2 separate regions of the Homo sapiens genome follow, and region 2 is linked to region 1. Evidence: fine-mapped expression QTL. Tissue or cell type: cerebellar hemisphere. Region 1 holds a variant in brackets; the other region holds the start of a gene. All regions are shown on one strand. Distances are between the middles of the regions.

Region 1 (6,090 bases):
TCTCCTGCCTCAGCCTCCCAAGTAGCTGGGATCACAGGCACATGCCACCACGCCCGGCTAATCTTTTTTTGTATTTTTAGTAGAGATGGGGTTTTACCATGTTGGCCAGGCTGGTCTCGAACTCCTGACCTCAGGTGATCCGCCCGACTGGGCCTCCCAAAGTGCTGGGATTACAGGTGTGAGACACTGCGACTGGCCGCCCCCAACCCCAGTTTCTGATCAGATCGTTGGGCCACAAGACACCAGGTGCCTGGTGGCCTTCAGTCCTGCCCTTTCTCTGCAGAATGACCTTCCCGCCAGCACTCCTGCCTCCAAATCCTGTGACTCCTCCCCGCCCCAGGACGCTTCCACCCCCGGGCCCAGCTCGGCCAGTCACCTCTGCCAGCTTGCTGCCAAGCCAGCACCTTCCACGGACAGCGTCGGTGAGCACCTTGCCTGTTGGTGCCTGTCTGGAGCAGGCCTCGTCTCTGGGGAGATCTAGGAAAAGGGGCTGGAGAGGCAGAATGCTGGGATTCCAGGCTTGGTGTTCATTGCCTTGGTCCTTTTTGTGACTTCAAGTTAGACGCTGCCTCCCTCTGGGCAGTTCCTCATTGTGTCAGCTCGGCGGGTAGGGAAACTGAGGCCTGGAGAGTGGAAGCGGCTTAGTCGGGGGTTTCAGCCTAGTGCACTGGAAAGACAATCTTTGGGGCCAGACAGACTTGGGTTTCAGACCAGGCTTGGGCATTCACCAGCTGGGTGACCTCGGGCAAGTGACCCAACCTCTCTGAGCCTCAGTTTCCCCATCAGTAATCTGAGGAATGACAGTGCTCATCTTTTCTGCCTTATGGTCAGGCCCTGGGCTGGTTCTGGGGCCCCTGAAAGAAGCTGGCCTTGGAATCTGCCCTCAAGGAACTCCCAGGTGGCAAAAAGGGACAGGACCCAGACCCCAAAACTCACAGCCCTGTATAGTCAGGGCTGGTACCAAGGCAGGTACCCAAGATGGGCAGGGCTGGAGGTTGGCAATGGGGAGGCTCAAGGATGTTTCTGAGATGTTAATGGACATTGGGCCTGGGTTTTGTTTTTTTTTTTCCTTTTTTTTTGAGACGGAGTTTCACTCTTGTTACACAGGCTGGAGTGCAATGGCACCATCTCAGCTCACTGCAACCTCCCGCTCCCAGGTTCAAGCAATTCTCCTGCCCCAGCCTCCTGAGTAGCTGGAATTACGGGCATGCACCACCATGCCCAGCTAATTTTTGTATTTTTAGTAGAGACCAGGTTTCACCATGTTGGTCAGGCTGGTCTTGAACTCCTGACCTCAGGTGATCCGCCCACCTCGGCCTCCCAAAGTGCTGGGATTACAGGCGTGAGCCACTGTGCTCGGTGGGCCTGGGTTTTGAAGGATGGATAGGAGTTTGCCAATTAAAAGAAGGAGAATGGCCATAGTCCCAGCTACTCAGGAGGCTGAGGCAGCAGAATTGCTTGAACCCAGGAGGCAGAGGTTTCAGTGAGCCGAGATCGCGCCACTGAACTCCAGCCTGGCGACAGAGCAAGATTCCATCTCAAACAAAAGAAAAAAAGAGAGAGAGAAAGTCGTGTCCACTGGAGGAACGATAGTGCAGAGGTCTGGAGGTGTCCCAGGCTATGGCCAATGTGGAACCAGCACATGGAAACTCTAAATGAAAGGCCAGGGAGCTCCCAAGGCAGTGGGAGGCGGGATCTGGGTCCAGGGCGTCAAAACCTGTCCCCGACTCTTCCGTCTCAGCCCTGAGGAGCCCCCTGACTCTGTCCAGTCCCTTCACCACGTCCTTCAGCCTGGGCTCCCACAGCACTCTCAACGGAGACCTCTCCGTGCCCAGCTCCTACGTCAGCCTCCACCTGTCCCCCCAGGTCAGCAGCTCTGTGGTGTACGGACGCTCCCCCGTGGTGAGTCCTTGGGTGGGGGCGCAGGAGGTGTCAGCAGGGCCCAGGGGCTGGGGGCCGGGAGGAGAAACCAACTACACAAGGAGAGACAAGGGAGTGCAGAAAGGGAAGGGAGCCCTGGCTCAGCAAGTATGCATGGGAAGACAATCTGGGGGTCTCAGTAGTCCCACAAGCTTAATACAAAGCAAGACTTCTGATTGTGGAAAAACGCAACAGCGATTAAGCTGCATGAAGAGGAGCAGTAGGGCCTTGGCCTCGGGACACTGTTTACAAAAACAGGCAGTGGACCAGATTTGTCCTGGGAGGGGCTGGAGTTTTCAGAACCCTGGCCTAGAGCCAGTCTGGGCATTGGATGGAGAACCCTTCAGGATCCTTGGAACCGTGGAGTTCTAGGATTTCCTGGATAGAGATTTTGGTGTCGGTGTGCTCAAGTGAAAACCTCAGCCCTCTCATCTGTAGTGTGACAGGCAGAGAGAAGGCATCTCTGCTGCCTTGGGGAGGGGTGATAAACAGAGAGGGGTATGGCAGGTGGGCGTGGGGTGGCACAGAGGTGGGTTGGAGTCACCTGCCTCACTGACACCCCCCTGGCATTCTCACAGATGGCATTTGAGTCTCATCCCCATCTCCGAGGGTCATCCGTCTCTTCCTCCCTACCCAGCATCCCTGGGGGAAAGCCGTGAGTACCAGGGT[G/TG]GGGCTCCCTGCCTGGGGTCCCGGGCCAGCCCCCCACCTCCTCTGAGGTCTTACCCTCTGTGGTTGGGGTCTCCCTGCTTCCCTTCTAGAAAGTCTCTTGTGTGGGCCGGGCACAGTGGTTCACTCCTGTAATCCCAGCACTTTGGAAGGCTGAGGCAGGTGGATCACTTTAGGTCAGGAATTTAAGACCAGCCTGGCCAACATGGCAAAACCATGTCTCTGCTAAAAATACAAAAATTAGCCGGACGTGGTGGCGGGCACCTGTAATCCCAGCTACTCGGGAGGCTGAGGCAGGAGAATCACTTGAACCTGGGAGGTGGAGGTTGCAGTGAGCTGAGACCGTGCCATTGCACTCCAGCCTGGGCAATAGAGCGAGACTCAGTCTCAAAAAAAAAAAAAGAAAAAAGAAAAAAAGTCTCTTGCATAAGCTACTCAGAGTTCCACTGGCTCTCCATAGAAGTAGACTCTGACCCCCCAGGGGACACTGGGCGATGTCGGGGGACACGTGTGGTTGTCACAGCTGGGGGAGGAGACGTTCCTGGCCTGGAGTGTGGAGGCCAGGGATGCTGCTTAGCATCCTGCATTGTCCAGGATGGCTCCACCAGAGGAGATCTGGCCACAGTGTCCACAGAGCTTTCTGCAGTGATGGAAGTGTTCTAGACCCACTGCTGGCCAACCCAGTCGCCACCAGCTGGGCGTGGCTTTCAGTACTTGAAATGTGGTCAGTGCAACTGAGGAGCTGAAAAGTTTTGTTTTGTTTTGTTTTGTTTTCTGAGACTGAGTTTCGCTCTGTCCCCCAGGCTGGAGTACGGTGGTGAGATCTGAGCTCACTGCAACCTCCACCTCCTGGGTTCAAGCGATTCTCCTGCTCCAGCCTCCTGAGTAGCTGGGATTACAGGCACGGACCACCGCCGGCTAATTTTTGTATTTTTAGTAGAGACAGGGTTTCACCATGTTGGCCAGGCTGGTTTTGAACTCCTGACCTCAAATGATCCACCCACCTTGGCCTCTCGAAGTGCTGGGATTCCAGGTGTGAGCCACTGTGCCGGCCTGAAAATGTTTATTTAATTTCAGTTCATTTAAGTGTTTTAACTGGTCACAGGTGGCCGGGGCTCCTAGGACAGACCCTCTAGCTGGTCTGGAACACTCAAGGTTTCTTTGTGGGTCCTCGGTTGAACGAACATTTATTAAGTGCTTGTTTACCATGCGCCACACCACAACCTAGACTCCCTGTGTATTTGTGCCACCCACTGACTGTCCCATATCACCTTTGACCACATTGTCCTGCCTTTTTCCTAAATCAGAGGCCGAGCACCATGGCTCACTCCTGTAATCCCAGTGCTTTGGGAGGCCAAGGCGGGAGGATCACTTGAAACCAGGAGTTTGAGGCCAGCCTGGGCAACATAGCAAGACCTCATCTCTACAAAATAATAACAGAGAAAATTACTTTAAAAAATGCATCAGAGGCTGGGCCCGGTGGCTCATGCCTGTAATCCCAGCATTTTGGGAGGCCGAGGTGGGAGGATCATTTGAAGTCAGGAGTTTGAGACCAGCCTGAGCAACATGGTGAAAGCCCATCTCTACTAAAAATACAAAAAAATTAGCCAGGCGTGGTGGCCTGCACCTGTAATCCCAGCTCCTTGGGAGGCTGAGGCAGGAGAATCACTTGAACCCCGGAAGCAGAGTTTGCAGTGAGTCCAGATCACGCTACTGCCCTCCAGCCTGGGTGACAGAGCGAGACTCCATCTCAAAAAAGAAACAAACGCATCAGGCTGGGCATGGTGGCTCACGCCTGTAATTCTAGCACTTCGGGAGGCCGAGGCGGGCAGATCACTTGAGGTTAGGAGTTCAAAACCAGCCTGGCCAACATGGTGAAACCCTGTCTCTATTAAAAATACAAAAAACTTAGCCAGGCATGGTGGCGCATGCCTGTAATCCCAGCTACTCGGGAGGTTGAGGCAAGAGAATCGCTTGAACCCAGGAGGCAGAGGTTGCAGTGAGCTGAGATCGGGCCACTGCACTCCAGCCTGGGCGACACGGCGAGACTCCCTCTCAAAAAACAAAACAAAAAATAAAAAACACATCAGAGGGTGCCAGGCAGGACAAAGGCGTCTCCCTGCCCTCCCAGGTGCGGGTGCGGGGGCGTGGTGCCCAGGGCTGGGTCATGCCCCGGCTTTCTCTCCAGGGCCTACTCCTTCCACGTGTCTGCGGACGGGCAGATGCAGCCGGTTCCCTTCCCCTCGGATGCACTGGTAGGCGCGGGCATCCCGCGGCACGCCCGGCAGCTGCACACGCTGGCCCATGGCGAGGTGGTCTGCGCGGTCACCATCAGCGGCTCCACACAGCATGTGTACACGGGCGGCAAGGGCTGTGTGAAGGTGTGGGACGTGGGCCAGCCTGGGGCCAAGACGCCCGTGGCCCAGCTCGACTGCCTGGTGAGGGCGGGGTGGGACAGTGGGCGGGACTCACAGGTGAGGGGTGGGGCTTATGTTCCAATGGGGCGGTGTTCGCAGGCTGGCCGTGGGTGGGGCTACAGGTGAAGGGCGGGGCTTATAGGTGAGGGGCGGAGCTCGTAGTCGCATGGGACAAGGCTTGCAGGCCAAAGGGGTGGGGCTCTGGCCAATCTGAATTGGACTTGCAAGACAATCAGGACAGGGTTTGCAGGCCAACCATGGGTGGGGCTTATAGGTAAAGGATGGAGCTTATAGTCAGATGGGGCAGTGTTTGCAGGTCAAAGGGGCGGGGCTCACCAGCCAATCAGGGTAGGGCTTGCAGGCTAATCAGGATGAGGCTACATTGGGCTCCAGAGACCCCCACGTTGAGCTAGGCTCCTAGAGACCTCACCTGGGACCAACCCCCAGCCCCTGCTTCTCTCCCCGACCCCAGAACCGAGACAACTACATTCGTTCCTGCAAGTTGCTGCCGGATGGCCGGAGTCTGATCGTGGGCGGTGAGGCCAGCACCTTGTCCATTTGGGACCTGGCGGCGCCCACCCCCCGTATCAAGGCCGAGCTGACTTCCTCAGCCCCAGCCTGCTACGCCCTGGCCGTCAGCCCCGACGCCAAGGTTTGCTTCTCCTGCTGCAGCGATGGCAACATTGTGGTCTGGGACCTGCAGAATCAGACTATGGTCAGGTGGGTGGCAGGTGCGCTGGGACCTTGGGCAAGCCCCCGGCCGCTCTCGGTGCAGGGGGAGTGGAGGAGTGTGACCTGGGACGATGCTGGGGCAGCTCGAATTCCAGGATGGACGCCTGGGCCCTTCTCCCTCCAGGCAGTTCCAGGGCCACACGGACGGCGCCAGCTGCATTGATATTTCCGATTACGGCACTCGGCTCTGGACAGGGGGCCTGGACAACACGGTGCGCTGCTGGGACCTGCGGGAGGGCCGCCAGCTGCAGCAGCATGACTTCAGCTCCCAGGTGCTGTTCGGTTCTGGCAGGAGGGGGATGGAAGCTCTAGGAATACAGCATCCCTTCCTCTCCTTGTGAGGTGCCCACTTCCA
Region 2 (5,000 bases), 31 kb after region 1:
TGGCCAGGCTGGTCTCAACCTCCTGACCTCATGATCTACCCGCCTCGGCCTCCTAAAGTGCTGGAATGACAGGCATGAACCACCGCGCCCGGCCTCTCTTATTTCAGTAAAGAGCATCTTCCATTTTGCACTTTGGCCTAAAGTCTAAAATGTTCACCACATTCTTGTGATGAAAATAGAAGCACAAAATATTTTTAAAAATAAAAGTCCGGGCAAGGTGGCTCATGCCTGTAATCCCAGCACTTTGGGAGGCCGAGGTGAGCAGAACACCTGAGGTCAGGAGTTTGAGACAACCCTGGGCAACTCAGCAAAACCCCGTCTCTACTGAAAATACAAAAATTAGCCGGGCGTGGTGGCGCGCACCTGTAATCCCAGCTACTCGGGAGGCTGAGGCAGGAGAATCACTTGAACCTGGGAGGTGGAGGTTGCAGTGAGCCGAGATCGCGCCACTGCACTCCAGCCTGGGCAACAAGAGCAAGACTCAATAAAATAAAGTCTCTTGGCCAAGTGTGGTGGCTCACACCTATAACCCCAGCACTTTGGGAGGCTGAGGCAGGCAGATCACGAGGTCAGGAGCTCGAGACCAGCCTGGCCAACATGGTGAAACCCAGTCTCTACTAAAAATACAAGAAAAATTTGGTGGTCATGGTGGCAGGTGCTTGTAGTCCCAGCTACTCGGGAGGCGAGGCAGGAGAATCACTTGAACCCGGGAGGCAGAGGTTGCAGTGAGCTGAGATTGCGCCATTGCATTCCAGCCGAGGTGAGTGTGAGACTCCGTCTCAAACATAATAAAATCATAAAGTCTCAAAACAAAATATCCCTCATCTGACTCCTTTACAAAAAAAAACGTCTGCTCAGCCCTGAGAGCCTAAATTTACAAATGGTCATCTCTGGGACGCAAAGTGCAGGGAGCGGGGATTGCTTGTAAAACATCAACCAAATACATGATGTGTTCCTGTGTTTTTATCACATATGTGATTAGATGCTACATTTTTTTTTAGATGGGATCTCACTGTCACCAAGGATGGAGTGCAGTGGCACCATCATAGTTCACTGCAGCCTCAAACTCCTTGGGCTCAAGCCAACCCTCTGCCTCAGCCTCCCAAGTAGCTGCAACTACAGGCCCACGTCACTAGGCCCAGCTGATTCTTCTAGTTTTATTTTTTACAGAGACAGGGTCTCACTACGTTGTCCAGGCTGGTTTCAAACTCCTGGGCTCAAGTGGTCCTCCTGCCTCGGCCTCCAAAAATGTTGAGATTACAGTTGTGAGCCACAGTGTCCAGCCTACACTTAATTTTTTTTAAAAAACACGGCTCCTTGGCACCTGTCTTGAGTGTAGCAGCGACCAGTATTGTCTTCAGCTGCGAGGCCTGGGCGGGGCCAGCCCAGGTCACAGGTGGAAAAGGGGCAGAACCACATTGGGCCCGGGTTTCCCTTGAGGGCTGATCCCACCACATGCCCTCCTCACCGAAGTGCTTTTCGGGGGGCCCTTGGGTCTGGGCTGGTCCCTAGAGGTCATCTTCAAGGCAGTAGCCTCCAAGACTTTAGCCAGAGTCTAAAACAACAAGGAGACGGCAGGTCTTGAGGGACAGAAAATAAGGCAGTGCCAGGGAAGCAAGGCACCCGTTACCCCACCCGCACCTCCCAGTTTGGTAAGTCTCCAGGGACCCAATCCTGCGGTTCTCCCATGCGTTCCCTAGGTCCTGTCCTCACTTATCAATGCCTCCAGCTGCCCAGATTCATGGGGGCGGGGACCCAGAAAGAACTGAGCCTTGCCTCCCAGGCCTCACCCTAGGAGGCTGGGGTGGATAGTGCACATACACTCCCTGCTGGGGGCAGTCAGGGACGGGGGAGCCCAGGGAAGGTCGCCAAAGCTCAACCTTAGTTTTGAGACAATTTCCTAAAGCGCAGGGAGATCACTAGAAAGGGGTTTTGAAGGATGACTAGGAGTTAGCCAGGTGCATTAGGCGGAATTCATCAGACAGAAGAAACGACCTCTCTCCACCTCCATCCCTGCTGCAGCACCCAGCTTCTTCCTTGCCTCAGTCCTGCCCCTCCACGCCCCTGCAGCCCCTTCCCCGGCCGGGAATCCTGGAGTCCCCCCAGCCCCCTAGAACACGCCTGGCAACTCACGTCCCTCACCGGGCGGAAGCTGCGGAGGTCAGCCAAGTTCAGGCCAAGAGGAAACTCCTCCTTCCCCCACCGGGGGCCATTTGACCCATCGGGCCCCGCCTCGTCCCGCCTTGTCCCCGCCCCGTCCCGCCCAGGCCCCACCCAGCCGCCACCTGGACCGCGAAGCAGATCAATGAAGGCGCAGTAGCTGCACGTGGGTTCGGGCTCCGGGGGGGGCAGGCCTCTGGCGGCGCCGGCCAATAGCGAGGCCGTTTACGCACGTGGGTCGCGTACGCCCTCCCTGATTGGTCGGCTCTCCCCGGCCGCCGGCCATGCTGTCACTCAGCGAGCCGGGAGCCTCTGCTTTACCCTTTCGGTCCCGCTGCCGGGAAGGGCGGACTTGCAGAGCTATAGGCAATTTGGGGTCCCAGCGGGGGCGGGGATATTTAGGAGGGCGTGGGGCTTGAGGCTCAGAGGCTGGAACTTGGGCAGGGATAGGTGGCGAGTAGTTGCATTGTTTTACGCATTTTTAGCCTTGTCCGGAAGTGGCTTATGGCTGGAGGTGAGGAGTGGGAGGTGGGTGGGTTCAATCTTTAGCGCTGTCACCCCAATTCTTAGATACGGGCTAATTACATTTTCCTCAATATTAAATAACGTGCAATGCAAACGAAGCTTCAAGTCCTCTTTCTGGAGCCAACTTACTGGGTCCCCTTGATGGTCCCAGCCCCGGGCTATGCATTTATCACCGAATTTTCCCAACTGCTCTTCCAGCCCAGTGACAAAGGCTCTGAGAGCAGAAAGCGGGACAGCAGAGGCCCTGAGGCTGATACAGTATTGCCGGATGCAAGCGCGGGGTGGGAGAGAGTGGTGGGTATTCCAGACGGAGGGAATAGCGGAACCTCTCAGGCAGAGCTGGGCTGGTTACAGGAGCAGCCAGGGAGGCTAACGGGGCTGCGTGCACTCCGAACAGGCCTGGGATGATTTCCGAGAGGTAAGTGGGTTGCTGCAGAGCGAGAGAAACCTGCTGTGTGGGGTCGTGGGGATAGGAGTAAGGGGATTTCGGAGTTTTGTTTTGGCCTATTCAAAATATGAAGCCAAGTCACCATGGCTCACACCTGTGATCCCAGCATTTTGGAAGGCTGAGGTGGGAGGATTGCTTGAGGCCAGGAGTTGGAGACCAGCCTGGGCAACACAGTGACACCGCGTCTCTACAAAAAATTTAAAAATTAGCCAAGTGTGGTGGTCATGCACCTGTAGTCTCAGCTACTGGGGAGGCTGAGGCAGGAGGATGGCGTAAGCCCAGGAGGTTGAGTCTGGAGTGAGCTATGATCGTGCCACTGCACTCCAGTCTGAGCAACAGAGCAAGACTCCATCTCAAAAAAATATATAGCTATAATATATATAAAGTATATATATTATATATATAGTGGTCAAGCTGCAGTTCTGGAGTGAGAGCCCGTTTCTTTCTGTTTGGCCCAGGACCTGGTACTGGCATTAGCAGTTCACTCTGCCAGGGACAGTCTCTCTCAGACAGCCACCGGCTGGCTCCTTACTCCCTCAGCTCCCTACTTAGAAATCACCACGTTGGGCCAGGTGCTGTGGTGCACGCCTGTAATCCCAGCACTTTGGGAGGCAGAGGTGGGTGGATCATCTGAGGTCAGGGGTTCGAGACCAGCCTGGCCAACATGGTGAAACCCCAGCTTGGCCGGGTCACACCTGTAATCCCAGAACTTTGGGAGGCCGAGGCGGGTGGATCACGAGGTCAGGAGATCGAGACCATCCTGGCTAACACGGTGAAACCCCATCTCTAATAAAAAATACAAAAAAATTAGCCGGGCGTGGCGGTGGGTGCCTGTAATCCCAGCTACTGAGGAGGCTGAGGCGGGAGAATGGCGTGAACCCGGGAGGCGGAGCTTGCAGTGAGCCAAGATTGCGCCACTGCACTCCAGACTGGGCGACAGAACAAGACTCTGTCTCAAAAAAAAAAAAAAAAAAAGAAAACCCCAGCTCTACTAAAATACAAAAATTAGCCAGGCATGGTGATAGGCACCTGTAGTCCCAGCTACTCTGGAGGCTTAGGCAGAAGAATCACTTGAACCTGGGAGGCGGAGGTTGCAGTGAGTCGAGATTGTGCCACTGCACTTCAGCCAGGGTGACACAGCAAGACTCTGTCTCAGAAAAAAAAAAAAAAAATCACCACATCAGGCCAGGCGTGGTGGCTCACGCCTGTAATTCCAGCACTTTGAGAGGCCGAAGCAGGAGATCACTTGAGGTCAGGAGTTCCAGACCAGCCTGGCCAACATGCTGAAACCCTACCTCTACTAAAAATACAAAAATCAGCCGGGCACGGTGATGCACATCTGTAATCCCAGCTACTTGAACCTGGGAGGCAGAGGTTGCAATGAGCCAAGATGTCGCCATTGCACTCCACCCTGGGCGACAGAGTACTCTGCCTCAAAAGAAGAAAAGAGTTCATGACCAGCCTGGCCAACATGGCAAAACCCCATCTCTACTAAAAATACAAAGGTCAGCTGAGTGTGGTGGCAGACGCCTGTAATCCCAGCTACTTGGGAGGCTGATGCAGGAGAATCGCTTGAACCCGGGAGGTGGAGGTTGCAGTCAGCCAGGATCGTGCCATTGCACTCTAGCCTGGGCAACAAGAGTGAAACTCCATCTCAAAAAAAAAAAAAGAAGGGAGGGAGGGAGGGAAGGAAGGAAGGAAGGAAGGATCTCATTGAAGAGACCTCCCAACCCTCCCTTCCCTTCCCTATATTTCCCTTTATTTCCTCTTTTTTTTTTTAAACACAGGGCGAGGGGGAGGGGAGTCTCAGTACATTGCCCCGGCTGGTCTTGAACTCCTGACCCCAAGTGATCCTCCCACCTCCACC

Evidence for each region. PIP is the estimated chance that this variant, and not a neighbour inherited with it, causes the effect.
Region 2: TLE6 starts here. The variant in region 1 is fine-mapped to the expression of TLE6 in cerebellar hemisphere (GTEx, PIP above 0.99).

Annotation. Positions count from the first base shown.
Region 1 is chr19:3,005,354-3,011,443 of GRCh38, reverse strand. It overlaps TLE2 (TLE family member 2, transcriptional corepressor), which reads left to right. Exons shown (of 20, transcript NM_003260.5): 12 at 284-422; 13 at 1,742-1,902; 14 at 2,499-2,575; 15 at 4,775-5,024; 16 at 5,476-5,723; 17 at 5,860-6,007. Among named protein-coding and RNA genes, the nearest start is that of TLE2, 21 kb to the left of the region's middle. RefSeq lists a silencer at 4,089-4,286 and an enhancer at 4,395-5,329. The variant G/TG (reference allele first, on the strand shown) is at 2,590.
Region 2 is chr19:2,974,753-2,979,752 of GRCh38, reverse strand. TLE6 (TLE family member 6, subcortical maternal complex member) reads right to left here and starts at 2,189. Exons shown (of 17, transcript NM_001143986.2): 1 at 2,143-2,189; 2 at 1,469-1,555. The coding sequence starts at 1,519. RefSeq lists a silencer at 2,158-2,467.